Linked DNA regions of Homo sapiens: region 2 is linked to region 1. Evidence: fine-mapped expression QTL. Tissue or cell type: blood mononuclear cells. Region 1 holds a variant in brackets; the other region holds the start of a gene. All regions are shown on one strand. Distances are from middle to middle.

The links. PIP is the estimated chance that this variant, and not a neighbour inherited with it, causes the effect.
Region 2: it holds the start of CCNJL, and the variant in region 1 is fine-mapped to the expression of CCNJL in blood mononuclear cells (TOPMed, PIP above 0.99).

What each region holds. Positions count from the first base shown.
Region 1 is chr5:160,273,625-160,276,310 of GRCh38, forward strand. All of the region lies in intron 3 of CCNJL (cyclin J like), which reads right to left. Among named protein-coding and RNA genes, the nearest start is that of CCNJL, 38 kb to the right of the region's middle. The variant A/G (reference allele first, on the strand shown) is at 1,077.
Region 2 is chr5:160,310,982-160,313,667 of GRCh38, forward strand. CCNJL (cyclin J like) reads right to left here and starts at 1,583. Exons shown (of 6, transcript NM_001308173.3): 1 at 1,383-1,583; 2 at 877-991. The coding sequence starts at 942. RefSeq lists silencers at 1,512-1,631, 1,742-1,801.

The DNA of each region.
Region 1 (2,686 bases):
CCACGAAAGTGCCGCCACTTTTTTTTTTTTTTTTTTTTTTGAGACAGAGTCTCACTCTGTCATCCAAGCTGTGGTACAGTGGCGCGATCTTGGCTCACTGCAACCTCTGCCTCCCAGGTTCAAGCAATTCTCCTCCCTCAGCCTCCCGAGTAGCTGGGACTACAGGTGCCCACCACCACAACCGGCTAATTTTTTTGTATTTTTAGTAGAGAAGGGGTTTCCCCATGTTGGCCAGGCTGGTCTCGAACTTCTGACCTCAGGTGATCCACCCACCTCGGCCTCCCAAAGTGCTGGGATTACAGGCGTGAGCCACTGCACCCGGCCTACAAAAGAGTTTTAGCAAGTAGGCAAATTCGCAAGAACAGAACCCGTAATGAGAATCAACTGTGTTTGTATATCCATGGAACAATTCCAGAAAAATACACCAGATCAAATTCAGAAGAAACTGTTCCCAGGGGTTACCTGGGATTGGGAAAAGGATTTTTATTTTATTCTTTGGATCTCACTTTACAAGTGAGTATAATAATTGTAATTTTAAAAATCTATAGTAAGGGCCAGGTGTGGTGGCTCACGTTTGTAATCCCAGCACTTTGGGAGGCCGAGGCAGGCAGATCATTTGAGGTCAGGTGTTTGAGACTAGCCTGGCCAACATGGTGAAACCCCGTTTCTACTAAAAATAAAAAAATGAGCTGGATGTGGTGGTGTGTGCCTGTAATCCCAGCTACTCAGGAGGCTGAAGCACGAGAATCACCTGAACCCAGGAGGCAGAGGTTGCAATGAGCCAAGATCATGCCACTGCACTCCAGCCTAGGTGACAGAGTGAGACCTCGTCTCAAAAAAAAAAACAATCTGTAGTAAGGAGATGGGCCTTTTCACAGGTAAGCTCAGCACAGCATGACTGACTCACAGAGCTAAGGGACCCTGCTCTGCAGGAGGACCAGAGCCAGAGACGGGGGCTTTCCCACCCCCCTGAAAGAAAGGCCATGCGACCACCTCCTGCCAGACACTTCTCCTAGGGAGGAGGACAGGGGCCAGCACGAAGGTCAGCACAGGATGTGGCCCCACCTACAGAAACC[A/G]GAAGTCAGAACTTTACTGTAAGAGTCAGATCTATCAGCCTCACCTTCCACTGCTTTTCACAGACAACAGGCAGTGGGCCAGGGGCAGGAGGGGCTCAGAGGACAGAGGAAAACCACTCACCAGTGAGAAACCTTGTTTTCTCAGGGACAGGCTCAGGCTCAGGGTCCGGAAGTGACAGTGAAAGAAAACAGAAAAAGTACGATGGAATTGCCATTAGATGGGGAAGAAAAAGGAAGAATGGAAAAGGAAGGAAGAGAGGGAATCTGGCAGTTTTGTTCACTGGGTAGTGTGTAGGGGTGTAATCTATGATTCATTTTCCCCCCATAAATGAAAATAAATTTTCCCAGCTATGAAAACACATCTAGGTTTGGAAGGATTTGTGTGTTTTTTTTTTTTTTTTTGAGACAGAGTCTTGCCCTGCGGCCTAGGCTGGGGTGCAGTGGTGCAATCTTGGCTCACTGCAACCTCCGCCTCCCGGGTTCAAGCAATTCTTCCACCTCAGCCTCCTGAGTAGGTGGGATTACAGGTGCGTGCCACCATGCCTGGCTAATTTTTGGAATTTTTAGTAGAGAGGGGGTTTCACCATGTTGGCCAGGCTGGTCTTGAACTTCTGATCTCAAGTGATCTGCCCGCCTTGGCCTCCTAAAGTGCTGGGGTAACAGGCTTGAGTCACCGTGCCCGGCTGAGGTCTGGAAGGATTCACACAAAACTGTGGGAGTGGGACTGTGAGCAAAGGGGAGAAACTAATTTTTCACACTAGGTACTTCTGTACCTTTCAGGTTTTTTGTGTTTGTTTGTTTTGAGATAGGGTCTGGCTCTGTGGCCCAGGCTGGAGTGCAGTGTCAAGATCTCAGCTCACTTCAACCTCCACCTCCTGGGCTCAAGAGTTCCTCCCACCTCAGCCTCCCAAGTAGCGGGGACTACAAGCACGTGCCACCACACCTGGCTAAATGCTTTCAGGTTTTTAAAAGTAAAAACGTATCTCACACTTCTTGTGCAAAATAATAAGGTCTTACAGTTAAGGCCTAGCTACCCTAGCAAAAGGTCACCTCTTGCCCTCCTGGCTTTCTCCCCAACCCTCCCTCCCTCCTCAGGCTGGTCCATGCCCTGGGGCCAAAGACTCAATACTGCAGTCATCTCCAGGCAGCAACCACCAAGCAAAAGCAAACCTCCAAGGTGTCTCAAAAAGTCCAACATAAAATTACCACATGACCCATAATCCAACCCATAGGCATATACCCAAAAGAATTAGAAACCAGTGTTCAAATATAACTGGTACCCAAATATTCACTGCAGCGCTGTTCACAACAGCCAAAAGGTGAAAACAACCTAAACATCCATCAACAGATGACTGGATAAACACACTGTGGGATATACAATGGAATATTATTCAGTCATAAAAAGAAATGAAGGCTGGGCACTGTGGCTCACGCCTGTAACCCCAGCACTTTGTGGGACCGAGGCGGGTGAATCACCCGAGGTCAGGAGTTCGAGACTAACCTGGCCAACATGGTGAAACCTTGCCTCTACTAAGGATACAAAATTAGCCAGGCATAGTGGGACATACCTGTAGTCTCAGCTACTTGGGGCGGTGTGGGTGGGGGGTGGG
Region 2 (2,686 bases), 37 kb after region 1:
GTGGTCCTTTGTAATGGCAGCCCTAGGAAACCAATCCATTCACTACTTCACACCTGTTCCCCAAGCCACCCCTTGCCAATCTCAGCCCAGGGACTGGAGGCAAGACACACAGGCCATGCCTCCAGCCCACCTGGACTCTTCCACCTTCCCAATGCCCCTCAGCCCTTCTCTCCTTGAGGGGAGGGGTGTGCAGGGATCACATTTCAGCTGCTCCCACCCACCTTCTGCCACAGGAGGCAAACCGGCAGGGGAGTTTTTGTTTTCTTCCCTCAGCCTCCCTGTTTTGTAGCCTCTTTCAATTATACAGGTGTTCCTTAAATTTCATTCGGTCCCATTCTAGATATACACATAGATACACGTATTTGGCCATAACCATGTATTCCCTGTACTACCACTTATCTTTATATAGAGTTACTACTTTTACTTAAATTTGTTTTAAAATAAACTGCGACATCATTATTACAATAAATGGAAAATCGCAAACGCAGAGCTTGCTAGATACATACACATTCTTAAATTACACATTAGAATGAATACACAATATTTTTTAAAGACCCCTTCACGTACGGTTTAAAATAACCTAGGGTGGCAATACTATAGGAAACACTGCCTTAGAGGTACAGTGGCTGTCTCTGACTAGTTGGCCCAGAGTTCTGAGCTCCTTATCAGAAAAACCAACTTCAATCTCTCCCATCTCCAGTCTCTAACCCCCGCCCCCCAATTCCGCTCAGACACTCCGGGAGAAGGTAAAGGGTAAGAGGAAAAAAAGGCACCCGGGAGTTCTGAGTTCCCACGCAGGCGACCTGAGAACACGAAGTCGAGACCGAAGGAGACTGTACCCAGTCTTGAGAGTGACAAGGGCAGGGAGGGACTGACCTTCTCGCGCAGGGTGCAGTGGACGTCCGAGGCGACGCGCCCTTCCCACCACGGCTCATCCATCATCGCGTACGCAGCGCCGCTATCCGAGGCTACCCGGCTCTCAGGGCGCACCCTGCGTGGACACGGGCAACTTCAGCGGCCAGAGCGTACCCCGGGCTCCGACCCCCGGTGTCCCTATCCTCTCTCGCCCCTGGCCCCGGGCCCCGGCGGGCGCCCCCTCCTGCGCCGCTCAGAGGAGCTGGAGGTCGCCTCTGGTCCGCGGAAGGCTGCGGTGCCCCCTCCCCTCTGCTCGCCGGACACGGGGCGATATGGAGCTGTGCAACAACTTGCAGAATTTTTATCTTCCCTTTTGCAAAAGTTGCAGAGAAAGTTGTCAACTCCGCTAGCTCGCTCGAGGCTGGGGCTCTGGCGGCGGCCACAGGCTCGCCGTCCCCAACTCCTCCCCCGCCGCCCAGCCTTTGTCCTGCTCCCACATCCTGCCCTCGAGCCGGGGCGAAACTCACGCATCCTCTCTGGGCGTGGGGGGCTGCGAGCGCCGGGCCCCTCCCAGTGCCGAGCCAGCCGTGCCCTCTGGTGCCTGCCGGCGGTTGGACCCTCGTCCGAGGCGCTCCGCACTCCCGACGGCCGCCTCCGCAGCCCGACTAGCCCCCGCCGTCGCCGCGCCCCTGCGTGCGCTCGGGTCCCGCCGCGGCTCGCAGGCTCCCGGCCGCCGGGGGCCTCCCTCCCTCGCTGGGGGAATTGGGGGCCGGGCCTCGCGCATGCGCTGCCGGCGCCCCCGCGCCCCGCGGGGCGGGGGGCTGGGAATTGGAGCCTTTCTTTGCCAGCTCTGGCTCCGCTTCCTGCCCGCCCTCCTCCCTCGCTTCGGCGGAAAGCTTCTCTCTCACCTTCGCTGAGGCTAGTGGTAGCCTTCTGGGCACCCCTCCGGCTTGCGCAGGGAGCAAAGGGACCGCGGCGCCACCTGCGCGCACCACGCGTGAAACGTGCGGACAGGACGCCCCCAGAAAGTTCTGCCTTCCGCGCGCACTGCTCTAGCCATCCTTACGTCGGTTCCACCTGTTTTTCTTTCTCTCTCTCTTTTTTTTTTTTTCCTGTTTTTGTTTTTTGTTTGTTCTCCTCTTCTTTGAAACCCGCCCTGCCATGGGGAGGTAGATTTCCAAACGGACAATTCCAGTGAAAGCTGCAGAAAAACCACCCTTGTTCACCCACGAGTCCCTAATTCTAAAGGAGCCTAAGTCACTGGTATTATTGTGCTCCTGCAGAATATGAACTATGCCTCACATTGGAGGAAAACCAGTCTTTTTTTGCCGGGTCCGGTGGATGGAAAACATTGTCTTTTTAATTCAATTGCTTGCTTTTGGAAAGTCATCCTTTTGAGTCAGCCCATCTGATGGCATAGCATTGGGCTATCCTTCTTGGCTGATTGATTTTTGTGATAGTTTTGGAGATTCACAAATTTGGAATCAAATCCACTTACCAACTGGGTGATTTTTGTCAAGTTCCTCAAACTCAGAGCCTCGTGTGTAAAATGGAAATAAAAGTTAAACCAACCTGCTGAAAATTAAAGGAGATAATGCGTGTAAAGGGATAATCACTACACCAGGTATTAAGTGAACACTCAGTAAACAACTGTGACTGAAGAGCCTTTAGTTTCTGACTGCTTTCCTGCACATAAAGACACACCTGGGAAAAAAAAATTAAATCAGCTTTGATAAGCTTCAATTGGACCTTGAAGAGCAGTTTTAATGTAAAACAAACGAACCATTTTAAAAGTGTAAGATACCTAAAAATAAACTGAATAAATGTGCAG